4 linked regions of the Homo sapiens genome follow. The protein of the gene in region 1 interacts with the protein of each later gene in a pairwise test. Each region holds a gene or a part of one and is shown in the gene's direction. Other genes may lie near its edges. The genes, in order: MID2, UTP25, EPN2 and AXIN1.

What was found.
Region 2: the proteins of MID2 (region 1) and UTP25 interact in binary tests that used the Homo sapiens proteins (3 or more experiments, as listed by UniProt).
Region 3: the proteins of MID2 (region 1) and EPN2 interact in binary tests that used the Homo sapiens proteins (3 or more experiments, as listed by UniProt).
Region 4: the proteins of MID2 (region 1) and AXIN1 interact in binary tests that used the Homo sapiens proteins (3 or more experiments, as listed by UniProt).

The regions. Positions count from the first base shown.
Region 1 is NC_000023.11:107,919,850-107,926,875, forward strand, and holds part of MID2 (probable E3 ubiquitin-protein ligase MID2), read left to right. Parts: intron 1-4,493; coding exon 4,494-4,655; intron 4,656-6,244; coding exon 6,245-6,452; intron 6,453-6,821; coding exon 6,822-7,026. UniProt on the Homo sapiens protein: E3 ubiquitin ligase that plays a role in microtubule stabilization. Mediates the 'Lys-48'-linked polyubiquitination of LRRK2 to drive its localization to microtubules and its proteasomal degradation in neurons.
Region 2 is NC_000001.11:209,830,962-209,837,987, forward strand, and holds part of UTP25 (U3 small nucleolar RNA-associated protein 25 homolog), read left to right. Parts: coding exon 1-82; intron 83-2,223; coding exon 2,224-2,397; intron 2,398-4,113; coding exon 4,114-4,202; intron 4,203-5,839; coding exon 5,840-6,250; intron 6,251-7,026. UniProt on the Homo sapiens protein: Component of the ribosomal small subunit processome for the biogenesis of ribosomes, functions in pre-ribosomal RNA (pre-rRNA) processing. Essential for embryonic development in part through the regulation of p53 pathway.
Region 3 is NC_000017.11:19,310,342-19,317,367, forward strand, and holds part of EPN2 (epsin-2), read left to right. Parts: intron 1-1,710; coding exon 1,711-1,803; intron 1,804-2,763; coding exon 2,764-2,938; intron 2,939-7,026. UniProt on the Homo sapiens protein: Plays a role in the formation of clathrin-coated invaginations and endocytosis.
Region 4 is NC_000016.10:293,702-300,727, reverse strand, and holds part of AXIN1 (axin-1), read left to right. Parts: intron 1-1,523; coding exon of another isoform or gene 1,524-1,544; exon of another isoform or gene 1,545-1,717; intron 1,718-2,429; coding exon of another isoform or gene 2,430-2,453; exon of another isoform or gene 2,454-2,468; intron 2,469-2,476; coding exon 2,477-3,006; intron 3,007-3,501; coding exon 3,502-3,672; intron 3,673-7,009; coding exon 7,010-7,026. UniProt on the Homo sapiens protein: Component of the beta-catenin destruction complex required for regulating CTNNB1 levels through phosphorylation and ubiquitination, and modulating Wnt-signaling.

The DNA.
Region 1 (7,026 bases):
GTTCTTATACAATTGAATGTCTAAAACAAAAATACAAAGCCTTGAATTTATCCCTAGTACATTTTATCTGGTTAGTTCTGCCACTTCATTTCAGCATGCTAAAATCCTTTGGGATACAGATTCTACCTTCAAATATACTTGCTTACCCTCACAGCCTGCCTTCTATTTCTTCCTCTAGTTATTGATAGAAAATTTTGTTAGAACAAGGACAAGGGCAGAGGCCTGAAGCAAAATTTTGGATGGCAATGAGAAACTATTTTACTAGGAATAAGTATTTTTGAAGATTCAGGATCCCAATCCTACCTGCCGGTCTGGCCTGCCACAGTTGACTGAACCTCCGTTCTGAGAGCTACTTTCCTTTGACGTTTTTTCACATTTTCTTTATCCAGAAATTTCATGCTTGTTGGTGAGGATTATTCCCCCTTCACCTTTTCTTTCAACTTTATTTCCTGATTTTTAACTTTCTTCCCACCTCTTCTAAGATTTGAAATGATCACAACCAATGATGTTTCAGATTATGCTGTGAGGTGAATGAGAATTCCAACAGATATTTGAGTGTGTTTGTCTTCTGATTACTTTATTATCTTTCCTCCGTTTGAATTTTGTGTTTTGCATTACAAAAGCATTAGCCGTAAACTCTGCCTAGCCAGGCGGACCATAACATACTACCAGAAAGACATAACTTCTATTTCCCTTCCTTTTCATTCTCATGCAAATACTCTCTACCACACATTTACACTCAGGTTCAGGGATTTCCATATTGTAATTTTTCCCTTTTGAACAAGAGGTATACTTCCACTGACATAATTCAATCATAAGTCCCATCTTACTAAATCTCAGTAATACCTAGAGGATCATATATTTACCTTTTTAAATTTAGAAATGATTTCAAAATCACAGAAAACTTTCCAAGACTAGCACAAAGAACACCCATATATTCTTTACCCAAATTCACCTACTGTTAATATTTGTCCCATTTCCTTTAGCATTTGCTAACATTCCCTGTTCTTTTGGAACCATTTTAGAGCAAATTGCATACATCATGGTCTTTCACCTCTGAATTCTTCAGTGTATATTTCCTAAGAATAAGGAAATTCTCTTACATAACCACAGTATAGTTACCAACTTGAAGAAATTTAACGTTGATGCAATACTTTTATCTAACCACCATTTATATTTCAATTTTTGACATTTGACCAAATAATATTCTTTATGACATATAAAGAACCCAATATTGTCCTTTATAGTTTAGGGTCAGGTATTACATTTAATTGTCGTATCTCTTTTGCCATATCTCTTTTAATCTGGAACATTTCTTCAGCCTTTCTTTGTCTTGAACAACATTGACATTTTTTAAAAAGTGTTCTTTTATGTCTTTATTATACTTCATTATACTGTTCCTTATTTTGATTTTTTCTGAAGTTTTCTCATGATTATATTTAGCAGTACAGTTCTTTCTTAGGGTATAATATCTGGAGACACATGATGTCCACTTGCCCTTCACTGATGATGCTAATTTTGATCACCTAGTCAAGATGTCGTCTGATTTATTCACTGTAGTTGCTACTTTTTCTTTTGCCACTAATAAGGAATCTGTGTGGTATGTTTTAAAACCATAAAAATACCCTGCTGCTTCATCAAACCATCTCATCCCTACCCCCACCCTTGTTTTATTATCAGTTGATGATACTTGCCTGAATCAATCATTAATATGATGATTGCAAAATGATGATTTTTCCAGTTGAGTATTCCCTCCCACATTTTCAAGTTGGCACTTGGCATTCTACTATAAGCAAGAGTTCCACTCCCCATTTCCTCCCATTTGTTTATATATCAGTATGGGCTGATGAATTATCTTTTTTCAATTGTTAATAATTATTTACAGCCCTTACTTGTGTTGGTGTTCAAATTGTCAAGATTTAGCCATTGGGAGCCTTTCAAGGTGATTTCTGGGTCCTTATAATATTCCCCCATCATTTTCTTGAGCACTTCCTTACTTTCTGGCATAACAAAATGTTCTAGGCTCATTTTGACCTTATTCTGTCCCAGCCTTGAAATCAGTCATTATTTTCCAAGAAACCCTGGTTTCTTTTAGTGGGACAATATTAGAGACCAAGACCTGAGTGCTAGATATGCTAGATATAAACACAAATATCCATACATGTAAGCATATGCACACATATATAATAACACATGCATACATACTTTATATATGTGCATATTTATGTGCACATACACAAACATATATATATTTTAGAAATCATGAGTTTACACCAATACCTTAAATTCCAGTCCATCCCCACAGGTTCCTTCCTGCCTTTCTCCATTCTGTATTTGTATGTTCCTTCTTCCACAGTATGAACCCTGGCTCCCAACATCAACACATGTACTCATTTGCTCAATCCCATAATACATCTAAAATAGTTTCTGAATTGCTCTGTCCACGCCACAACAAAAACAAACTGGCTAACAATACTTCAGGATTTGTTTGAGGTTTTCCTCCCACCCCCACTACATTGATGTAATTATGCTGTTCGTCTGAAATGCAGTTGGGTTTGTTTCAGTTTGCCTTCAGCTTTAGTCCCCAATTTTCCCATCTGTATTCATTTAATTTTATTTTTTTGAATTTGTAAAACAATGTGTTTCCCAAAGAGGATGCTATACAAAAAGGTACATTCAGAGAAATGTCATTTCCTCCCACATCCTTTTAATCCTGTTCCTCCACCCCCTACCCCTTGTGGATAACCAACTTCATGAATTTTTTATTTATCTTTCCTGTTTTTATTGTTGTTGCTTTGTAAATCCAAGCAAATATATGGATGTTTTCTTATTTTTCTTTCTCTCAAAAAAGTAGTGTACTGCATATATACTACATATACATATATACTTTTGGAATTTGCTTTTTTCAATTGACAATATTTCCTTGAAATCACTCTATATCAGTTCATAGTGATCTTTTCCTCATTTTTTTCACAGCTGCATAGTACTTCATTGTGAAGTTTGTCTTTGTATTGTTGGGTGTGTATCTGGAGATTATATGTTTTCCTCTTTGTATTAAAATCTTATGTGCAGCTTGTGATTCATACTGTGTATTGGTAACATAGGCAAGGCCTCAAACATTGCTCCTACCCTTTTAATCCATATTGTCTTTTCATTAGAATCACTGGGCACCTCCACCAATTCTTCCTCCTCTTTCTCCTGCATATCTGTTTGCCCTCCATCGTTTCTTTTACTAGTTTTAACTTAGGCTCTTCAACTTCCTCTCAGATTAATTATAAGCCCTTTGATCAGATCTCTTGCAAAACATTCATGACTTATTATTTTCAATTTTCAACCTCACTAAATTTTGTACTAGAGTTGCATAGAAATGACTGAATTCACTGCTTATATTCCTCGCCTTTCCCTTTCTACCCTCTAGTAGAACTGTGGCTAAAAAGTGGTAAACTAACTGAAAAGCAGATAACAGTAGAAAGAAGTCTAAATAATCTGCAGACTAGAATGTTGGTTTTTCTTTTACCGAAAGCTTGCCAAATACATGTTTTAATTATTTACATTTCCCCTGTTTAAGTTAATATTTGCAGTCTAAAATATATCAAAAGCAGAAGCCTAGTTCTCTGATCCCTTTCCCTACTTGGAAGGGAGGAAGATTCCAGATAACAATGTGCTCCTGGACCACTCAACCCAAAATGAACATGGGAATCACACAACAGAATGTGTTGTGTAATAGTGGGGAGATGATATCTTGCTTTGGTTATCATGTCATCTCTTTGGCTTCCCTACGGTACTGTGGAGACCGGCTAGTTTGGGAAGTAAGGGTAAGGATGGAGTAGGAGAGTGGAATTGTAAGCCCTGAGAGCCTCACTACCTTGCAGAGACAAAAGAACATTGTTGTTCACCCCATGAACTGTGATGTAGTAGAGAGAACACTGGGCTACCATTTTAAAAATACCAGGGTTCTATTCTCAGCACCATCACTGACTATCTGTGGCCTTGGGCAGGTCACTTTTCTTCTCTCAATCCTAGTTTCCCATTTGTAAAATAAGGGAAATACAGTATCTATGTGTCCCTTTGGCTGAGTTTCCATGTTTCCCTGCTCTGCACAGGATTGCTCCATCCATACAAGACCAAACTCAGCTCTCAGAGGAGTGGACGTTTGGAGTAAATATCCAGAGACTCCATAAGAGTGATGATTCCGTGACTCTGTATAGTAGCCATTCCTGTGTTATCTGGGAAAGAAATTGAAATAACCTAACTTATGCTAGTAGTTCCATTCAATTGCCACAAGCAAGGAGCCTGGCCTAAGCCTAGTTCTATGGGAGTAATGAAATAGTGGAATCATAAGCCCTGGTTCATCTCATTACATCTTCTAAGACTCAAAAGAAAACAAAATGAATTCACTTTTGAGGGGGTGGCTTATGATGAATTTTCAGTGTGTTTTTCATTCTGTCTCTCTTACCTGCTGGTTAATGTCCTTGTCTTTCCCCATGTTACAGGCCTGTATAATTCAGTAGACAGCTGGATGATTGTTCCCAACATTAAACAGAACCATTACACAGTGCATGGACTCCAGAGCGGGACTCGCTACATCTTCATCGTTAAAGCCATAAACCAAGCCGGCAGCCGGAACAGTGAACCTACCCGACTAAAAACAAACAGTACGTTGTGGTGATTTCAAAAGGAAAGATCAATTTTCTTCTCCATGCCAGGGGAGTACACAGCCTGAGCAGGCACTCACAGCAGTGCATGGGGAGCAGTGGTACTGGGTAGAGGAGCTATACTGTTGTAGTTTGTACTTTGGGCAAGGAGTTTGTTGGTGCCCATGGGAGATTTGTGGACTCAGAGATATGCACAAAAAGACTGTTAGCTTGGGAGGATGTTAGTGAAGAGTTTTCTCTGTACTCCACCCCTTATATTTGGGGGACAATTGCATAAAAGAGCATTATTTGTGATAATCTAGTAAAATCTTACTACAGAGAAGCCATATCTGTTAGGAATGCTTTTGACAGCAAATAACAAAAAGTGCAACTAACATAGCTTAACAAATAGCGTTTGTTAATTGTTTAAATGAATAGTATATATTTTATCTCTCACACATACACATAGGAAGAAGTTTGAAGGTAGGCAGTTCAGGGCTAATGCAGCTGCTCTGCGATGTCATAAAAGATGCAGGCTCCTTCTCCCTGTGTGCATTGGCTTCTTGCCACATGGCTGCAAGATGGCCACTGCAACTTTCAGATGTCATATTACCTCTCAAGATAGGAAAGAGGAAAGAGTTGGTACACATAATGGTTATCCCTTTTATCTGGAAATCCAAAACTTTCCTAGAACTTTCCCCTGCTCTGTCTGACTTCTGCTTCCATCTGCTTCCATGTTCTTAGCCGCCCCTAGCAGTAAGGGAGGCTGGAAGATTGAGTATTTAGCTTTTCCGGCCTCTATAGTGAAAGTGAGTAAGAGAGAAAAAGTTGGGAAAGGGTAATGTGTTAGCCAACAGTGTCTGTCACAGAAGCATTCTGTATAAAAATCTCTTGCCACACCCAGCAACTGGTCCCTCAGTAACAATGCCTTTGTCATATGGTTATAAAGAATTATCTGTTGTGAATGATCCTACACAATAAATGTTTTCTCTGATCATTGATGATGCAACAGTCACTCTAACAAAATTGCCTAATTATATGTTATTTACATCCCAATTGTAAGAGGGCAAAAATAATTGTTCAGTTGCTGAGTTCTCAGGGTTTTCCGGTTCTGCCATCAAGCAGCAATTACATCAATTCCCCTCACCTCAGACATCATAACACTCTTTCTGTTAAAATCTACCCAAATCCCAAACAACCCACTGAAATTAAGCAAAGTACAAAACATATTTGAGAACATGAAACTTTGAGCACTCCCTTTTACTTTGATAATATATGATGTGGGGGACAGCTTATTAGCTCCTCTTTGCTTGGAATATGACTTCCCTCAAATTGCTTTTAGGAGAGATCCACATTTTTTCCCACAGTGGGAAAATAAACGCCGTTATGAAGGTCGTTTTATGGGAGATTGGCCTTTATTCTTATTTTATTGAAAACTCTGGTTTCTGGCCTGTTTTCTTAATAAAATTTAAACAGCAGCCAACTTGCACTGGACCAAGAGTGATCATGTTATCGAGCATACCCTGCCAGTGATGATGCTGGTGGAAAAGGTAGAATTTTAAGATACTTCATAGTGCTTTTTCTTTTTTTTTTTTCTACTTATTTTTCAGGCCAACCCTTTAAATTGGATCCCAAAATGACTCACAAGAAGTTGAAGATCTCCAATGATGGATTGCAGATGGAGAAGGATGAAAGCTCTCTAAAGAAGAGCCACACCCCAGAGAGGTTTAGTGGCACAGGGTGCTATGGGGCAGCAGGAAATATATTCATTGACAGTGGCTGCCACTATTGGGAGGTGGTCATGGGTTCCTCAACATGGTGAGTGGATCCCATTTTCCTTTTCTTTTCTGTCCTCTGTCATTAGGTTCCTAGGAGATTCAATTCTATAGCACAACCATAATACCAATAAGTCAAGGTTAAAAGGTATGTGATGAAAACCACTCCTAGAAAAATTTGCCAGCTTTTTAATAAAATAATGGAAAATATACTGGGCTAGGAGATGGAAACTGCCACATTGCTCTAATTGCTAACTTTTTAAAGCTCTAGTGATATCAGCATTATGCATCTAAGTGTAAACTATTTAAGGAATAAACATATATCCTATTTGTTATATATCATATATGGTGTCTTACACAACTCAGATAATTCATAAATGTTTATTTCTCTCTCCTTTCCACTGTCTCACAGGTATGCAATTGGCATTGCCTACAAATCAGCTCCAAAGAATGAATGGATTGGCAAGAATGCCTCCTCATGGGTCTTCTCTCGCTGCAATAGTAACTTCGTGGTGAGACACAACAACAAGGAAATGCTGGTGGATGTGCCCCCACACCTGAAGCGTCTGGGTGTCCTCCTGGATTATGACAACAATATGCTGTCTTTCTATGACCCA
Region 2 (7,026 bases), on another chromosome or scaffold:
GCAGAAATGAACGATGAAGATGGTGGTAGCGATGTCAGTGTGGAAGAAGAGATGGCTGCAGAGTCTACTGAAAGTCCAGAGAGTAAGTGTCTTTACTATAGGCTCATCATCTTTGCCAGAACTATAGACAGTTCATCTCATGAGCATGGTACCTTATATACTGTGTGAGTTGGATGAAAGGACATGAATCCAAAATAGGGATTTACCCTTGTTGGGTTTGATTGTATCTTTGAGAATCTGATGGAAACACAGAACCTTCTTAGCACAGCTAGGCAGAAATAACATTTTTGCTTGTAATTTCAGGGACTTCATCAGTACTAGTGAAAGACCTCCTAATACAGAGGAAGGAGAACACAGTTCTGTCTTTGTGACTGTCTGAATTTATTGAAGAGGTTACTGTTCTTCTCTTAGGGAGACCAAGTTTGATGGAAGATAGACATAAATATATATAAAAAATTTCAAACAGTAGATTTGCGATTGCATGGAACAGCTAGATGTAAGGTGTTGAAGAGAGGCAGAGTGGTTGAACACTGCCAGTGTAAATTAGGGAAGGCTTCAGGGACTCTGTGTCACTCAGACTTGAAGGTGACTTTTTTCTTTAACTTCAAAATCACCTTCATTGAGGTATCATTTACATACAGTAAAACGTATCCAATTTAAATATACAGTCTGACAGGTTTTGACAAAGGTATACATCCAAATCAAGATACAGAACATTTCCATTACCTCCAAAAATTTTTCTTATCCTTTTGCAGTCAGTTCCCCACCCTTGGCATCAGGCAGCCACTGACCCGCCTTCTGTCACTGTAGATTAGTTTTGCCTGTTCTAGAAATTCATATAAATTGAATCATACAGTATGACTCCTTTTGTGTCTAGCTATTTTTGCTTCTCATGTTTTTCTAATTTATTTGTGTTGTGCATGTATTAGTCACTTACTACTTTTTAGTTGCTGGAATAGCATTCCATTGTCTGAATATAGCTGGGTGACTTTTTACTCATTATTTTAATGCCTATTTTTCTTATAGCCTTATTTTTTTTTTATACCTTCTGGTATTATATATCATTCCAGGTATTTTAACTGATCAGTTTTACTGAGATAAAAATTCATTGACTTACACTTAGGAGTTTGTTTTGTTTGTTTCTATTTTTCTTTGCTTTTTTGGATTTTTAAAAATGAAAATTTTTTTATCATTATAAAAATAATATATATTTACTGTAAACATTTAAGAGGGTAATATAGTTACCCTCTATCCCTGCTACCCAGAGATAAACACCTTTAGCATTGTATATAACCTTTCAGACTACATTTTTATGATTATATATGAGTATGTATATATATTTATGTGTATCTGTATAATGGCCTTATACATTTCCGTAACTTCCTACATCTGTGACTGTGGATTCACATTAGCTTCTTAATTACATAGTATTCCATTGTAAAAATATGATTGTACCCCATTGATAGACCCTTTTTCCCCCAGTTATTTCTTATAATCAGTGCTGCTTTGAACATCCTCTCATGTACATCTTAGTGTACTATGTCTGGTTACTATTTTAGAATAAGTTCCTAGAACTAGAAGTGGGTATATTAATTCGAAATCTCCAGAGAAACAGAACCGGTAGGATATGTGTGTATATGAGAAAGAGATCTGGCTCACGCCTGTAATCCCAACACTTTGGGAGGCTGAGGCAGGCAGATCGATTGAGCTTAGGAGTTTGAGACCAGCCTGGCCAACATGGCGAAACCCCATCTCTACAGAAAAATACAAAAATTAGCCAGGCATGGTGGTGCATGCCTGTAGTTTCAGCTACTCGGGAGCCTGAGGTGGAAAAATCACTTGAGCCCAAGAGGTGGAGGTTGCAGTGAGCCAAGATGACACCACTGCACTGCAGCCTGGGTGACAGAGCCAGACCCTGTCTCAATATATAAATAAATAAATAAACGCTCATCCAAAAATACCCTCGCAGAAACATCCAAAATAATGTTTGGCCAGATATCTGGGCACTGTGTCCCAGCCAAATTGAGACATAAAACCCACCATCATGCATCATGTGTTGATGATTAGGCTTAATTTTGAAATCTATGTTTTCTACCTGAATTTACCTAAATATAAATAGTATCAATGAACGCTATTGTTGGTATAGCCTAAGGAAATAAATTTTGTCAACAGAAGTATAATTTGTGAGTAAATAATTTTATAAAATGTTTCTCAAAACTGCAGATGTAGCTTTATCTGCTGACCCTGAGGGAAAAGAAGATGGGGAAGAGCCACCGGGCACATCACAAACATCCCCCGAAGAGTTCACAGATGCAAAACACGAGTCACTGTTCAGCCTGGAAACCAATTTTCTGGAAGAGGAAAGTGGAGACAACTCTTCTTTGAAAGCCTCTCAAGGTCATAGCACAGTGTGTGTTATTTGAATTCACCAGGTGCTTAGTATGGAATTTGTGTACTAATACACATTGAATCTATTATTGGAACAAACAGCAATAAAAACAGTTTAGTGGCTAGATCTAGAGCTGGGAAAAATAATTCTAAAAGGTATTTTGTGTTTCTCAGTGTTTAGGGGTTGGACGGGACATTTAGGAGAACAAACAAGAATGATGGTAGGGAAGGCCAGCTTCCCAGGCCTCACATTTTCATTATTGGAGTCAGGGGAAGATTTCTGATTTTCTCCCCAAGTAGGGAAAGAGAAAGAAAAAGAGGAAAAAATACTTCCTCTACCCCTCACTTGCTGTTCCTTTTTGGAGCAGTAATTTTTCAGATTTGCAAGACCCAGGGGTGGCTAATCTGAGTGGTCTTTATTACCAGGGAGACCCTCAAAAGCCAAAAAGCCCTACCCTGTGTCTCCTGCCTCCCACAGACTCTTGACCACTCCTGTGACCAAATGGCAGTCACGTGGTCAAGACGTGCCTATGGCGGGCTTTGATGGGTTCCTGCTGTCTCAAGTCCAGTTTCTCAGCCAGTGTCTGGGTGGGCAAGTCAGGTTGGTCTCGTTCTGTATCCTGATTGCCTTCATTGATCTCATTGCCATTCTTCAACCCAGCTTTACCTTTAATGAAACAGAAATTTTAATCCTCATTTGACTCATTTAGTTCTGTTGGTTATTTTGCAGGAGAAGAAGTGACAGGTAGAATTTGTAGATTTTAGTACAAACTCCATTCTGAACCATTAAAACTTAGAAACTTTGGAGGAAACATTAGGAAGCTTGACTGTCCCATAATTTCTGTGGTTGTTTTGCTCATACAGATATATTAGCATCTAGAATTCTTATGTCCTGTTGTTCACTCTTAGATATTTAATACAAGATGCATTTCATTTGAAATTTTACTGTTTGGATGCTTGGATGGGTCATTTAACTTTGTTCTGTTTCTTATGAGTGGGACTGGGAGAGAAGGTTGGGTGGCTAGCTCAGAATACTAAAGATTACTTGGAGTGCAGATGCTATCATGTGGATCATTTGTTCAATTCAGTGGAGTATTGGTCATATCTGTGTGTCCCAGTGCAAGATCAATCAGACATGGAACCTGTTCTTAGAGACCTTGCAGTCTGCTAGATAAGACATGTATATATGTATATGTGTTGGAATGGGTGGGTTGGGCAGAGTAGGAGACTTGAGAAAGTGATGACTCTAGGGAACAAGGTGAGCCAACGTTGTGCCTAACACAGTAAGCCTGGGAAGTATTTATTGTGATTCAGTGGGTAACATTAAATTGATAACATTTGGATATGCAAAAATGAAGTGAAGGAGAGGCTGGAATTTTTAGTTGAAGGAAGGAAAAGCACAGAGGCAGAAGAATTTGAGGGCCATATAGTCCAGAAATGATAACGGAGATGCAGGTTGGAGGTATATCCTAAAGTGCTCTGAATTCCAGGCTGAGAAGTTTCTTCAAAAGTTTTCAAGCTGGGAAGTAATATAATTAGAGAAATGTTTTAGGAAAATGAACCTTTCAGAAGTTTTTAAGCTCTGGACTTGGCCAGAGGGTGGGGAAAGTCAATGGAGAAAAGGATGAGTTAACACAATGAAGATCAACATGTCTTTCACAGGGGAAGACCACAAAACCCCTCTGTAGTTGCATAGTGTGCTGACATTTTTTATTTCTGAATTAGATCCATTTCTTCAACATGTGAACAAAGAACTGAAAGAAAAAGCAATTCAGGCTGTTGCCACAAATCCCAAAACTACCCACGAGCTTAAAGTAAGTGTTGCTTGGTCATCCCGGTCACAAATAGAGAAAGCTCTAAATAAAACAGTGGTCTTGGGTTTTAGTGGCCTCCCAGAATGTATGATATACACCTGCAGTAGATGGCTTGATAGGGAAGCAGGGCATAAGGAAGGCTAGAAGAGCCTAGTGGGGCACAGTTGTAGCTAGAAAACGCACCAGGAAGCTGGAGTGTGGGTGCCAGATAATATAATGATGGGTAAGAGTGGATTTGGAGACCAACATCTTCAAGGAGCTATCACATTTTGACCCAAGGCAAGTTCATCTGCTTTTTTGCTATTCACTATTCTAGTCTGCTAGAGGGGGATAATAATACCTATCTCAAAATAGAATAGTTTACTAATACATAGTGTTCAGTAAAACAGTGTTCATTAAAACAGTAGGTACTACTGTTGTTCATTTGTTTGAAATATCTGAGGTAGGTCCACAAATAAATTATCCAGATATTGGGCAGTTTTTGCTTCTTTGTTCTTACCACTGATGCCATTCATGAGAGTTGGTCATCCTTTTTTTAATTGAAATTTTTATTGAGGGAATAATTATAGATATACATGCAGTTGTAAGAAATCATACAAAGACATCTTGTACCCTTTGCCCAGTTTTCCTCAGTGGTGAAATCTTGTAGAACTGTAGTATAATGTCACAGCCAGGAAACTGACATTGATATAATCTACCAGTCTTACTCAGATCTGGTTTTACTCCTGTTCAACTGCATATGCCTGTGCCTATATTTATATACAATTTTATCATGCATAGGTTCCTGTATCTACTCCTGCCATCAAGATGCAGAACATTTCCAGCAAAATACAAATCCTTGTTGCCCTTTTATAACCATATCTGCCTCCCTCTGCACCCTGCCCCACCCCCATTTCTAACCCCTGGTAACCACTAATCTGGTCTCCATTTCTATAATTTTGTCATTTTAAAAATGTTAAATGACTCATACAGCATGTAACCTTTTGAGATTGTTTTTTTTTCACTCAGCATGATTCCCTGGAGAGTCATCCAAGTTATTTCAGCTATCAGTAATTTATTTCTTTTTATTGCTGAGGTTGTCCTATTTTTAGATCAGCAATTTAGCTATAATGCAAAAATTCTTAAACTTGTATCCCACAAAATAGAAAATAGTATTCCTTAGGATTTAAACAAAATGGACAGATTTCTTGTCATAGAACTTGTCAACACCTTTAGTATCGAGTGTACATTGTCAATCTCCCTCAGAGGAATTAAGTTTTGTGATGTTTATCAAGGGTATTTGACCATGGAACCCCTTTGTTTCTAGAATGAATGTTGACTCTTCCCAGAATATATTCCACAGAACAGTGTGGGACAACTGATAGGGTGAAGAGCTCAGATTTGAAGTCAGAAACCTTGGGGTCTAGCCCTCAGCTCCATTTTCTTCTGTGTAAACTTTGTATCATACAACCTCTGTATGAACCTCAGTGCTTCCTAAACTATAACATGAGTATCATGGTAACTACCTTGCAGGGCTGTTGTGAGGATTAAATGAGATGATCTATAAATCATGAAAAAATTCGCTAAATATAGTACTATGTGAATGTAATTTACTGTTATTCATTTCTAATTTGGCTCTTGATCTGTTTCTCCCCTAGTGGCCTATTCTGGGCCAGCTTTTCTTTTCCTCTAAGTTTCAGAAGTTGGAAACATTTAAACCCCCAAAGGATATTGACTTAAAGTCACTTCATCTCCAGAAGCCTCTGGAATCCACCTGGACTAAGACCAACAGCCAGTTCCTATCTGGTCCCCAAAAATCAAGCAGCCCATTCACCCCCCTCCAGAAAGAACTCTTCTTAATTATGAATTCTTACCGGGACCTGTTCTACCCGGAAAGGACTGCTCTGAAGAACGGGGAAGAGATCCGCCATGTGTATTGCCTGCATGTGATAAATCACATCCTCAAAGCCAATGCCCAGGTGCTTGGCAACAATAGCAGACGCCGAAGCCAGAAGTTTGGAGTGGGTGATGATGATGACTTCAGAGACCAAGGGTTAACAAGGCCCAAGGTGAGTCCAGCAGGAAAGCTTTGCTCTCGAGGAGGTGGCTGCAAGGCACTGCCATAGAGGTGCCTGACACTTAGCAGGAACTTGGGTATTTTAATAATTGACTGGCATAATGAATGAGCCCAAATGTGAGCATATTAAGTAGGCCAGGTAGTGTCAGAGCAGCACTGCAGCAGCTTAGTGGGCTGTTTCTGACAGTGGATGTAGCTGGAAACTTGCGAGAAGGAGGCACTTCATGACACTTTCCTTAAAGATAAACCCAGAGTATATAAATAAAACTCCATTATAAATCTCTTCTTTGTGGTTGTCAAAGCTGGATGGGACCTTAATGAGCCTTTTATCCAATCCCTCCATATTACAGCTGTGGACAACCCCAAATTCGTAGAAATTCATAGAGGGCCTTGCTAAAGAGAACCAGGGAAAGAATAGCAGAGATGAGACAAGAACCATAGATTCTCTTCACTAAGCCACATACATACGTCAGCCTTTGAAAGCAAAAATTTACATTTGCCACTGTAAAGTTATTGCTGCTTAAAGTGATGCGTTTGTATTCATAAGTCTAAGCTCTAGTGGATTTGAGGCCTTAACAGGAAATGGCTTTCAATTTTATCTACATTATTCATGATGTTATAGAACCAGGACTTGTCCCCCTGCCCTGAACTGCATCTCTCCGTATTGAAGAAGCCTCATCTTTTTAGAATTTTCTCATTGAGTTTAATAGGATTCTAGAAATTTGATACTAATGTGGCCTTTAGAGATTTCTTAGTCAAACTCCCTTG
Region 3 (7,026 bases), on another chromosome or scaffold:
GCAGGGTGGGCGCAGGGATGCAGGCCTGAGGGGCAGGAGCCAGCCCAGCCCCCGCCAAGCACTTTGACCTGTAGCAAGAGATTTGCAAAAAACAAAGGCTGGGAAAAAATGCTCCCGAAATGAGAGTGCTTGTGTTTTGATGATGGAAGTATGTATAGTTTTAGTTTTTTTCAGTTCCCATTTTTCTTTTCTTTTCTCTTTTCTTTTCTTTCTCTCTTTCTCCTTCTTTCTTTTTTTTTTTTTTTTTTTTTTTTGAATCAGAGTCTCACTCTGTCACCCAGGCTGGAGTGCAGTGGTGCAATCTTGGCTCCCTGAGACCTCCGCGTCCTGGGTTCAAGTGATTCTCGTGCCTCAGCGTCCCGAGTAGCTGGGATTTCAGGCGCGTGCCACCATGCCCGGCTAATTTTTGTATTTTTAGTAGAGACAGGGTTTCACCATGTTGGTCGGGCTGGTCTCAAACTTCTGACCTCAAGTGATCTGCCCACCTCGGCCTCCCAAAGTGCTGAGAGTACAGTCTTGGGCCACCGTGCCTGGCCCCCATTTTTCTTTAGTAAGCATGCATTACTTTACAACAGCGAGAAGGGAAAGGAGCAATTAGAGTGGCCTTACAAATTGTCAAGCCTTTGGTTGCAGTTATCAGGGCTGTCTCCAATGACCTTTGGTTAAAAAAGGTAGATGGGACCAGGGGCAGCACAGGGATTCCTCTCCTCTATTAGAAGTTGGTGTTCAGAGAGGAATACTGGGGATAGTTAGATTTGAGTACTGACAAGTTCATCCCGGCATTGTTTGTGTGTCTATAACTGGCAACATTCTAAAGCTCAGTGACAGTGGGCAATCTCAGTTGTGGCCTCTCTGTCCCTGCAGTGGGAAACAGGCCACCAGTAACTGCCCAGGTGGATGCATGTGGCTTCATGGCCAGCAGCCCAGGAAGAAGGTGCGTGGTAGCATCCACTGAGAAACATAGGGACAGACGGACGGTTTGAGCCCATTTTAGTTAATATTTATAATAAAATATAAGGGAGCAAGTTCAAACTCCCGTGCTGATCAGTAGTGGCATTGTCCCTGTGAATAGCTACTGTGTAGCAGCCTGGGTAATACCATGAGACCCTATCTCTTAAAAACAAGAAAAGAAAAAATACAAGGAATATATTATTTATATTTAATTATTATATTATATAAAAGCTTAGGACAACCCTGTCTTTTGCATATGGTGACTTTGCCTTAAATAAAGATAGTGAATCATTTCTGTTAGGAATCATAGAAATATGCAGCCATTTTCCGGAAGCATACACAGTGGAGGTGGAATGATACGTGATTTTTATCTTCTTTCTAATTCCTTTTTGGGTTGTCAGATTTGTGTTTTATAAGGACACACATTGCTTCTATAAGTAGAATTTATAAAGCCAGTTTCATTTTGAGAAAAAAATATTTTAGATTAAGCATTCCCTTTCCCCAGTTTGGTGGTACCTGAGCCATAGTCTCCCTGGTGTGACCCCACAGGGGTCCAAGTCACAGGAGTCGCCATGAGGGAGGGGCCTTCTGGGTACACACACATTTGGGATTTGAAAGTAATTGTGTTTTACAAGTAGTTTTGAAATCTTCCTTTGAAATACTGCATCATACAATGTGCATTTCCTGTTTCTGGCCAGTGTGGCTTTGTTCTGTACAGTGATGTTATTACAATTACCAGTTTGCATTGTCCCTCTACAGGAAGAACGCCTCAGGCGGGGTGATGACCTCAGATTACAGATGGCCCTGGAAGAAAGCCGAAGGGACACAGTTAAAATTCCAAAAAAGAAAGAGGTAAGAGCTTGCTGGGAGGGTAGATGTTTCACCCTGTCCTGTAGTTGTTGCCTCAATATCCCCCCACCAACTTGCCTGGATGGCGTGATGCACAGTGAGTTCTCCAACCTCAGCAAATAACCTTCATGCCTGTAGTGAGCGAGAGCCAGGTGAGCAAGCGACTGAAAACACACCTGAACTAACCAGGAGACACTTAATGTCCCAGTGCCTCAGTCTGCTCGTTTGTAAAATGGAGGTGATGATAGTGCCTGCCTCCTGCCGCTGTGGCTACGGCAGCTGTCAAGTGAGCTACATGCCAGGGGCTGCGGAACGCTTTCCTGCAGCAGGGTGTGCCCCCAGAAGTGCTGGTTGCCTCTTCAGCCCTGTGCCAGGCTTCCTGCTGTGATGTAGAGATGACCAGGACATGGCTGGGCTCTTGACAAGCTCATCATCATCCAGTCAAGACCCAGACCCCTTCTACACCACAGGCCCCGGGGCTCCATTGGCCTCCTCTGTTACAGTGCTACTGAGGCCGGTGGAGCCCCTGGCTCCTGACTGGTTGATGTTGATGATCCCTGATGACACATGGGGTGGTCTTGAGAGTGGGGAGCATGCAGGTGCCCGAGGAGGAGGGCCCTCAGGCTGGCCCTGGATGGTGGCTGGCAGGTGGGAGGGATGGCGTTCTGGAGGAGGTCCACAGCCTGGGCAGAAGCCAGTGTTAGCCTGGAAAAGTCTGTTGAGCCCTGAGGTCTCTGAAGTCTGGTGAGGGGGTTTAGCAAACAGTAAATAGCTTGTTGTGACTGGAGAGCTGGCTGGACGGGGAGGGAGATGGGACGGCTCAGTTTCCAAGTTCTTCTCAGCCCCTCCTAGAGGGCTTCACTGGAGGAAGAGGCACAGGTGGGTGATATTTATGGCTAGTTCATGAGTATTTGCTGTAACTGTAGCATAGTAAAACCTGTCCCCTTCTCTTTGTCTTAAAAGCATGGCTCTCTCCCACAGCAGACTACGCTGTTGGATTTAATGGATGCTCTCCCCAGCTCGGGCCCCGCGGCCCAGAAAGCAGAGCCCTGGGGCCCGTCAGCCTCCACTAACCAGACCAACCCCTGGGGCGGGCCAGCGGCTCCTGCGAGTACTTCAGACCCCTGGCCATCGTTTGGTAAAGACCCCATTACTGGTCTCCCGTGCTTGCCTGCTGGATGGGTGAGGGGCAGGGCAGTGCTTCTTGCTGTCTCTCACCCACTTGGGTCTGGTCGATTGTGGTGGGTGTCCAGGCTCCTCCAGCCCTCAGCAGTGATATCCAACTGGCCCTTGCCCTCCTCCTTGAGGATGGTGGCATGGTGTTCCCTCTTTGTTTTGAGTGGTTTTCTGCTTTGGGAGAAGGAAAGTCAACCTCCCCTCAACCTCCCATTTGCATCAGAAATGGCTTGTGCCTTCTCTGGGACATGTTTCAACTCTTGCAGCCTCAGCGTTACACCCAGCGTCCCAGCTGAAGGAACCAAAATACACAGCATGGAACATCCAAATCAAGCTGCTGTAATTAGATGGAAATTATGATGTGCTTACCACCACTGCTGATGAAAAGGGGATACATTTGCTATAATTCTGCTTGTTACTTAAAGCAATAGAAAATCCGTTTAATAGGCTAAATGAATATTTTAAAGTTTTGCTTAATGTGAGATGTAAGAGGAATTGTGGTGGGAAGTTCAAAATGTGAGCATGACACAACTGGTTTGATTTGGGTGATGATCTTGGGCCCACGAGTTTCTTAATCACTGGGCAGGAGCATGGCCCAGCAGGCTTTATGAAGGCTTCCTGGCCTGGTGCCCTGGGAGGCCCCTCCTGGTGTGCTAAACCCTACTGGGCGTGGCTGACCTGTGGGCTGTTTGGGAACTTTGTATATCTTGTGGCATCTTGCCTGTATCTCCTGGAGTCTCTGTTTCTCTCAGAACCGTCTCTTGTGTTTAACTCGGTTCCCTAGATGTTTGCTAAAATGTACCAAGTGACAGGCTGTGTTCTGCTGTGCATGACCCCTGAGACAACAGGTGATTATTGTCCCTGTTGTCTGTTGTCAAGGCCCTGCTCAGGAGCGGGCAGGGCAGGAACACAGCGTAATAGCAGTACTGTGTAGTCCAGGACTCGATGGAGGTTATTTGAGAGCATCCTGGGATGAGATGAGACTCAGTACAGGAGTCCAGGAGTGTGAGGTAAGCATTTTGGAGGAAGGCCACTTCCGTTGAGTCCCCAGGGAAAAGAAGGTGTCCAGGCACCAAGAGGCAGGGAGTTCCCTGCAGAAGACTCAGCGTGTGAGAAGCAGAGGGGTACGGAGTGGTGGAGTGGGTGCAGATGCAACCAGCTGGTGTGAACTGGGAAGCAGGGGAGAAGGGCCCAGATCACTCAGGGCCTGCACTCAGCCTTACCAAGTGCTTGGACTTGGTCCAGAAGACACTGTCAGCCCCCGATGCCCTTTAGCATCTGGTGAGTTCCAATAGCTTGATGGTGGCCTCTGTAACCCAGGCAGGGCCTTATACCCCCTTTGGCAGGAGCCCTCTGGGCCTTGGGAAAAGCCCCAGGCAAAATTGCCCACAGCTTTCATTGACTGAAGGCCAGTTCCAGGGCTGCTCAAGAGGTTGGTTCACAAGGTTTGTCACTTGTGTGTGGTACCCCCAGGGAGCCTGTGGTATGGTTTTACTCACCACACATGGGGACTGTGGTGCCCCAGGGCTGGCAGACCCTTTTAGACAGTGGCTTTGGCTTTATTTTTAAATCTGAAGAATGATTAGTCTGTAAAGTGATGGCCACCATAAGTTATGGTTAGGATGTTTTCAGGAAAGACTGTTCATTAAACTGTCGGATAGTTGTCTTAGTGCCCTGTAAAGAAAGTGGTCACACCAGGAGCCAGGTGGGTTTAATAGAGTTAAATTCTGGGGAGGGAATTGGGGATCAGAGTGGTGGGAAGGAGACTTAGTTTTAACACTTTACCTTTTTATATTGTTTGGCTTGTTTACCAGGGGTAAGTTTTTCCCAGTCAGGAGAGACAAAAATCTCAAAATATCTTTAAATGACCAAGTTATGCCCAGCCCCTCCTTTGGCTGGTGAACAGGGCTGTGCCCTGGACCCAGTGTTCTGGGCCGAGCCAAGGACCTGACCTGACCCTCTAGGAACATAGCGTAATAGCAATACCATGTTGAGAGCACCCTGGGGTGAGACTCGGTACAGGAGTCCAGGGGGTGTGAGCGGAGGAGTCTCCCCTGATGAATGGGGGCAACTTGGTGGGCTTGATGGGCTGCTGCTTCACCTAGGAATGCTGCCCATGTGAATCTGCCCTCCCAAATTTTAAGAACTTGAGATAAAATTCACCATTTCAACTTTTTTTTTTCTTTTTTTTGAGACAGTCTCACTATTGCCCAGGCTGGAGTGCAGTGGCACCATCTTAGCTCATTGCAACCTTCGCCTCCCAGGTTCAAGCAATTCTCCTGCTTCATCCTCCTGAGTAGCTGGGATTACAGGCTTGTGCCACCACACCAACTAGTTTTTTATTTTTAGTAGAGACGGGGTTTCACCATGTTGGCTGGGCTGGTCTCAAACTCCTGACCTTAAGTGATCCGCTTGCCTCGGCCTCCCAAAGTGTTGGGATTACAGGCATGAGGCACCGCTCCTGGCCCATTTCAACCATTTTAAAGCGGACACTTCACTGGTTTTCAGCACATTCACAATGTTGTGCAGCCACCATCAGATATCTAATTCCAGAACATTTCCATCACCCCAGAAAGAAACCGCATACCCAGGCCCTGGCAACCAGTATGTGCTTTCTATCTCCAGGGATTTGCCTCTCTGGACATTTCATAGAAACGGAGTCATGCACTGTGTGGACTTTTGTGCCTGGCTTATTTTGTTTAGCATCATGTTTTCAAGGTTCATCAATGTTATAGCGTGTGTCAGTCCTTCATGACTTTCTGTGGATGAATAATATTCCATTGCATGGATATACAACACTTCGTTTAACCATTCAGCAATTGATGGATATTTGGGCTGTTTTCACATTTTGGCTATTATGAATCCAGTTTTTTAAAGAGAAGATAGAAACCTGGATTTTTGAAATCTAGTGTTTAAATGTTGGCTGTGAATTTTAAAAATTAAGAATATGGTTTGAGCTAATTAAAAGCTATCTGAGGATGGGCACATGTGGCTTGTTGACTGCCAGTTGGCCATCTCTTGCCACTTGCCCAGCCTAGGACCTTCTTGGTTCTGATGCACTTGGCATTATTACCAGTGACTTGGGGAGGAGATAGGCCACCAAAGCCCATAGACATTGTTAATAGGTTTGGGACAGGCTCAGTGCTTATGGCACCATGTCCTGTAGTTGTCACACCATCCTGGACTGCTGCAAGGCCCTTCTGTGGCCCTGGCATGTCCTGGAAAAGTCACCACAAATTCCAATATGGAGAGATAGCCACTGTTAAAATGTTAGCTTGTCTGCTTCCTGTCTTTTTTCTGGGCATTATGTTTTTACTCAGTTGAAGCTATATTGTATATATAATTACGTGTGTATGTATGTGTATATTTCAATTTGTAGTGTCATGAGCATTTCTAGGCATCATTAGAAATTCTAAACAATACCACGCTGTACCATCATTTACTAAGCAGCCTAGTGATGTTCATAGGGGTGTTTTTGCAGTTCTGGCACTCTGCTTTCAATAGAAAAATACATTAAAATCACAGTGATTTCTTTTAATTCTGAGATTCTTTTCTCAGTGGTGGTGTTGACCAGCTCTGCAGGAGAATGGCCCTCTGCTAGCTCCTGCATTCACTGAAGCGTGTTAGCACACCCTCTGCTTCCACATTCCATCAGCGTAGCCTCAGAGCAAGAGTGTGGTATTGGATTTATTGTTTAGCATCTAGTTAAATCCAATAGTGCAAATTTTCAGGGTCACCCCTCCATCCTGAGACTCATTCATAAATTAGAAAGATTGGAGTCCCTTCCCCTAACAGTGTTAGCTGTGCCCTCTGGATGAAAGAAACACTGTTTTGAAAGCCACCATTTGTAGTGAGCCCCATCATTACCAGTTTTTTCCAAGCAGCACTAGGAGCAACTTGGCCAAGTGGCCTTGGGAGGAAATGCTCAGGGTTGAAAGGAGGGAGATTGGAGCCTGCCAGGTCAGTGGGGCGCTTCCTCCTCTGTTCCAGACACACAAAGCAGCCACCTGGTCTGAGGAGGGCTTATAGCCTGCTGATTCAGAAGACCTT
Region 4 (7,026 bases), on another chromosome or scaffold:
TGCATCCGCCAGGGGATGCCCACCACCCACCTGTCCCCCGGCTCTGCTCCAGCATCCGTCTGTCCTCTTTAGTGCCATATTTCACCCTCAGCCCCAGTGCAGGTGCCCGCAGCCAAGCCCACACCAGCTCTGGGGCACGCCTGTTCCAGTTGCATTTGGATACTTTTGCAGGTGTGAGAGTTGGGTGCTAAACGTTGGGAGGTTTGTTTATATTAAAATATAGAGGTAGGTGGGGCACAGTGGCTCACATCTGTAATCCCAACACTTTGAGAGGCCAAGACAGAAGGATCACTTGAGGCCAGGAATTTAAGAGCAGGTTGGACAACATAGTGAGATTCCCCATCTCTACAAAAAAAAAAGAAAAAGAAAAAATTAATGGGACATGGTGGCATGCACCTGTAGTCCCAGCTACTTGGCAGGCTGAAGCAGGAGGATCGCTTGACCCCTGGAGGTTGAGGCTGCCTTGAGCTGTGATGGCACCACTGCGATTAGGTGTGGTGGCTCACACCTGTAATCCTAGCACTTTGGGAGGCCAAGGTGGGTGGATCACCTGAGGTCAGGAGTTCGAGACCAGCCTGGCAAACAGGGTGAAACCCAGTCTCTACTAAAAATACAAAAAATTTAGCTGGGCATGGTGGTGGGTGCCTGTAATCCCAGCTACCCGGGAGGCTGAGGCAGGAGAATTACTTGAACCCGGGAGGCGGAGATTGCACTACAGCCTGGGACACAAGAGTGAAACTCCGTCTCAAAAAAAAATTAAATAAATAAAAATAGGCCGGGCACGGTGGCTCACACTTGTAATCCCAGCACTTTGGGAGGCCGAGGTGGGCAGATCACGAGGTCGGGAGATCGAGACCATCCTGGCTAACACGGTGAAACTCCATCTCTACTAAAAATATAAAAAATTAGCCGGGCGTGGTGGCGGGCACCTGTAGTCCCAGCTACTGGGCAGGCTGAGGCAGGAGAATGGTGTGAACCCGGGAGACGGAGGTTGCAGTGAGCCGAGATCGTGCCACTGCACTCCAGCCTGGGTGACAGAGCGAGACTCTGTCTCAAAAAAATGAAAATAAATAGGCCGGTTGTGGTGGCTCACTCCTGTAATCCCAGCACTTTGGGAGGCCGAGGGTGGTGGATTACCTGAGGTTAGGAGTTTGAGACCAGCCTGGCCAACATGGTGAAACCCCGTCTCTACTAAAAATACAAAAAAATTAGGCAGGCATGGTGGCACACTCCTATAATCCCAGCTACTCGGTAGGCTGAGGCAGGAGGATTGCTTGAGCCCGGGAGGTGGAGGTTGCAGTGAGCCAAGATCGTGCCACTGCACTCCAGCCTGGCTGACAGAGCGACTCTGACTCTAAATAAATAAATACATACATAGATACATGGTAACTTAGTTCCCTCTCTTTCTTTTGTATTGACACCAGATTTACTCAATACTGTTTTAGTTTGTCAGTCCAATAAGATGAGAAAATAAGTATGAGATGCAACTTGGAATTAAAGTGATCAAATGTTTGCTCTGACAGATAAGCTTCAGCACCTGTTAACTTGGAGAATCAAGTGAAACTCCACCGGCTTCATGTGGAAGCTCGTCAGGCAGCATCACAACATGTACATAACCCAAGAGCCGTTCTGTACAAGGTTCTCCTTAAAATATAATGGGAGGCCGGGCGCGGCGGCTCATGCCTGTCATCCCAACACTTTGGGAGGCCGAGGTGGGTGGATCATGAGGTCAGGAGTTCGAGACCAGCCTGGCCAACATAGTGAAATCCTGTCTCTACTAAAAATACAAAAATTAGCTGGGTGTGGTGGCGCACACCTGTAGTCTCAGCTACTTGGGAGGCTGAAGGAGGAGAATCACTTGAACCCAGGAGGCAGAGGTTGCAGGGAGCCGAGATGGCACCATTGCACTCCAGCCTGGGTAACAGAGCAAGACTCTGTCTCAAAAAATATATATATATACAGGCCAAGGCAGGCAGATTGCTTGAGCTCAGGCATTCGAGACCAGCCTGGCCAATATGGTGAGAATCGCATCTGTCCCCAAAGTACAAAAAAATTAGCTGGGCGTGGTGGCACACGGCTGTGGTCTCCGCTATTCTGGAGGCTGAGGTGGGAGGATCGCTTGAGCCTAGGAGGCGGAGGCTGCAGTGAGCTGAGATCACACCACTGTTCTCCAGCCTGGGCAACAGAGCAAGAACTTGTCTCAAAAAAAGAATAAAACTAAACTAAATCTGTGCAGAGCTCTGCCCACAGCCGATACATACGCTGCATTCCTTGAGGCCTTGCTGTCTCCGCTCCTTCTGTCTATGCCCCGTCCTGCCTCTCCATCCTCAGGGACAGGACCGGTGGCGAGGGGCCCCCGGCCACCCTGGGCTGGGACGGCATCTGCTGGGGCTGCTGGGTCAGGCCTGATGCTTTTTGTTTTCCCCAAGTGTGCAGCTGGTGCTGAGAGGTGATGGTGCTGCTTGTCCCCACACAGGAGGAGGAAGGTGAGGACGGCGATCCATCGTCAGGGCCCCCAGGGCCGTGTCACAAGCTGCCTCCCGCCCCCGCTTGGCACCACTTCCCGCCCCGCTGTGTGGACATGGGCTGTGCCGGGCTCCGGGATGCACACGAGGAGAACCCTGAGAGCATCCTGGACGAGCACGTACAGCGTGTGCTGAGGACACCTGGCCGCCAGTCGCCTGGGCCTGGCCATCGCTCCCCGGACAGTGGGCACGTGGCCAAGATGCCAGTGGCACTGGGGGGTGCCGCCTCGGGGCACGGGAAGCACGTACCCAAGTCAGGGGCGAAGCTGGACGCGGCCGGCCTGCACCACCACCGACACGTCCACCACCACGTCCACCACAGCACAGCCCGGCCCAAGGAGCAGGTGGAGGCCGAGGCCACCCGCAGGGCCCAGAGCAGCTTCGCCTGGGGCCTGGAACCACACAGCCATGGGGCAAGGTCCCGAGGCTACTCAGAGAGTGTTGGCGCTGCCCCCAACGCCAGTGATGGCCTCGCCCACAGGTGAGCGTGCGCCTGTCAGTGAGGAGGGGGCTTGGGGTGAGGCTGTGTCCCTGCAGAAGGCCAGAACCTCCTCATAAAACTCAGGAAACCCAGGACCGCCAGCAACAGGCAGGAGGCCCCTCTGCTGGAGGGAGTGGACTGGGCCCTGGGTCAGGGGAGTCCACGCCGTGACCTCAGGTGGGAGATGAAGGTTAGGGGACACAGCCCGACCCTGGCTCCCGCTCTGGCCCTCAGTCTTCAGGGGGTGAGCAGTGACTGCCTGTGTGTTTAGAGAGGAAACCAACCCCCAGACAGCACCAGGACAGCGGGCAGGGGACAGCGGGTGGGGGACAAGCTGGCGGGGGACAGCGGGTGGGGGACAAGCGGGCAGGGGACAGCGGGCGGCGGCTGCACCACGGGAGCCTTACAGATGCCAGGAGGGGGCCTCGCAGACGAGGAAGGGGCACAGCCTCGGCCACCGGAGGCCAGGGCGACTCGCAGCTCTTGCCCTTGCAGTGGGAAGGTGGGCGTGGCGTGCAAAAGAAATGCCAAGAAGGCTGAGTCGGGGAAGAGCGCCAGCACCGAGGTGCCAGGTGCCTCGGAGGATGCGGAGAAGAACCAGAAAATCATGCAGTGGATCATTGAGGGGGAAAAGGAGATCAGCAGGCACCGCAGGACCGGCCACGGGTGAGCACCCCGCACGCAGCCAGCCTCGTGGGGCCTGCTTTGCCACCCCTGGCCTCCGCACAGTCTCAGTGTGTGCAGCTTCAGTGTGTGTGGCGAGTGTCGCCTGTGACGCCTCACACTTCCCCTGTCACTGTGGCACCCTCCCGGGCACCCTCCAGCAGGCTCCCTGGGCCCCACGTCTCCAGGAGGAAAACCTCATGTCCCCAGAGAGAGGCTGTCCCTGAAGCCCCGAGCAGGAGGGAAGCTGACGTGGCTGTCACCCCGCAGGCAGCACAGATGCTCTCGGGAGGTCATTTCCAGTCTGACCCCCACATGAGAATGACCTAAGTCACCTGGGAAGGCCCCCACTGACCATCACTCCCGAGGTGCCCACGGAGGAGCCTTCTGTGCTCACACCTGGCCGTCCTGCTGAGGGCTGGGGAAGGCTCTTGTGTAGCGTGAGCACTTCTCTCCTCCCAGAAGGGCAGAGGCCTCGTGTGTGGTGTGGAGCAAGGCCCCGGCGCCACAGGTCCAGCCCCTGCCGCTGCCCGCCGGGCCGGTCTTGGTGTTGCTCCTGCTCGCCCCCTGGGCCTGCACTCGTGCCCGGAACCCAGCAGGAGGGCCAGGGGCCCCACAGAGGTGGTACCCCCCACCTTCCTGTCGTGGTCAGAGGCAGGTCAGCTGGGAAGTGTTGGCCCTGGTGGGTGGATGGCCCCAGCTTCCTCAGACTTAGGTCCTGATCTGCCCCCCACCCTCACCCAGGCCCTGGCCAGGACGCATCTCCCTCCACATTACTTGATGAGAACTTGTGAGGCAGCTGAGCGCCTGGGGCGTGGCCCTCCTGCCTGTGTTGGAAGCCTGTCCCGCAAGGCCTTGGGGTCCCCATCGGTGCTGACTGAGGTGGGGACGGGCTCATCGTTTTTCTGGGGCTCCCGAGGGAACAGGGGTGCACAGCACCTTGCCTGGCTCATTTTTTGTAGAGGGGGTCTCAGTGTGTTGCCCAGCTGGGTCTCAAGCTTTTGGGCTCAAGTGATCCTCCCACCTTGGCCTCCCAAAATGCTGGGACTACAGGCATGAGCCACCATTCCTGGCCTTCGAGTCTTTTTTTTTGAGACGGAGTCTAGCTCTGTCGCCCGGGCTGGAGTGCAGTGGTGCAATCTTGGCTAACTGCAACCTCCACCTCCTGGGTTCAAGCAATTCTCCTGCCTCAGCCTCCCGAGTAGCTGGGATTACAGGCGTGAGCCACCACGCCCGGCTGATTTTTGTATTTTTAGTAGAGACCGGGGCAGGGGGTGGTTGCCATGTTAGGCTGATCTCGAACTCCCAACCTTTGGTGATCCGCCTGCCTCGGCCTCCTGGAGTGCTAGGATTACAGGCGTGAGCCACCGTGCCCGGCCGAATCCTTTTTTTAAATAGCTGTATATACTAAATATTGCATGTCCCATATTTTAGGATAAGTATTAATACATTCCACTTTGAGACATACTTATACTTTTTATTCATTAAGACTTTTTTTTTAATTTTTTGCGACAGAGTCTCCCTCTGTCACCCTGGCTGAAGTGCAGTGGTGTAATCACACCGTTCACTGCAGTCTCAGCCTCCTGGACTCAAAGCTATCCGCCGGCCTCTAGGATTAGTATATAATTTGTATCCCAGTAAAGCTGTTAAAAATAAAATGTAAAAAAAGAAGCCTCATCCCAGCACTTTGGGAGGCCGAGGCAGGTGGATCGCTTGAGGTCCGGAGTTCGAGACCAGACTGGCCAACATGACAAAAACTCCATCTCTACTAAAAAAAATACAAAAAATTAGCCGTGTGTGGTGGCGAGTGCCAGTAATCCCAGCTACTCGGTGGCTGAGGCAGGAGAGTCGCTTGAACCTGGGAGGCGGAGATTGCAGTGAGCCGAGATCCGAGGTCGAGCCATTGCACTGCAGCCTGGGCAACAAGAGCAAAACTCTGTCTCAAAAAAAGAAAAAAAAAAAGTCTCCATGAAAGAATTTTTTTTTTTTTTTTTTGAGACGGAGTCTTGCTCTGTTGCCCAGGCTGGAGTGCAGTGGCCTGATCTCAGCTCACTGCAAGCCTCGCCTCCCGGGTTCATGCCATTCTCCTGCCTCAGCCTCAAGAGCAGCTGGGACTGCAGGCGCCCGCCACCACGCCCGGCTAATTTTTTGTATTTTTTTAGTAGAGGTGGGGTTTCACCGTGTTAGCCAGGACGGTCTCGATCTCTTGACCTCGTGATCCGCCCTCCTCAGCCTCCCAAAGTGCTGGGATTACAGGCGTGAGCCACCGCGCCTGGCCTTTTTTTTTTTTTTTTTTTTTTTTTGAGATGGGGTTTCGCTCCTGTGGCTCAGGCTGGAGTGCAACAGGCCAGTGTCAACGCACTGCAACCTCCACCTCCCAGGTTCAAGTGGTTCTCCTGTCTAACCCACCTGAGTAGCTGGGATTACAGGCACCCACTATTATGCCCAGTTAACTTTTTGTATTTTTGTAGAAACAGGGTTTCACCATGTTGGCCAGGCTGGTCTTGAACTCCTGACCTCAGATGATCCACCCGCCTCGGCCTCCCAGCGTGCTGGGATTACCGCGCCTGGCCATTTTTTTTTTTTTTTTTTTTTTTTGAGATGGAGTCTCACTCTTGCCTAGGCTGGAGTGCAGTGGTGCAATCTCAGCTCACCGCAACCTCTGCCTCCCAGGTTCAAGCGATTCTCCTGCCTCAGCCTCCCGAGTAACTAGAATTACTGGTATCCACCACCACACTTGGGTAATTTTTTGTATTTTTTGAGTAGAGTCATGGTTTTGCCATGTTGGCCAGGCTGTTCTTGAACTCCTGACCTCAGGCGATCCACCCACCTTGGCCTCCCAGAGTATTGGGATTACAGGCAAATGAGGGTTGGTTTTTTGTTGTCTTTTTTATTCCTGAGACTGAGCCTCACTCTGTCACCCAGGCTGGAGTGCGGTGGCGTGATCCCGGCTCACTGTAACCTCCACTTCCCCAGTTCCAGCCATTCTCGGGCCCCAGCCTCCAGAGTAGCAGGGATGACAGGCGCCCAGCTAATTTTGTATATTTAGTAGCGATGAGGTTTCACCATGTTAGGTTGATCTCGAACTCCCGACCTCTGGTGATCTGCCCGCCTCGGCCTCCCGAAATGCTGGGATTACAGGTGTGAGCCACCATGCCTGGCCGGGATGTTTTTATTGTGTGGTCTGTGGAGGACGTCCATGTGGCTTGGTGGCCAGGCCCCAGTGCCCCATCCCATCCTATCCCTCAAGGAGGCTGCCCTTGTGAGATGAGTGTAGCCCCACCAGGCCACCTGGCCAGGGTGTCGGCCACAGTCACAACTTGTTCTCTTGTTCCCCAAGGTCTTCGGGGACGAGGA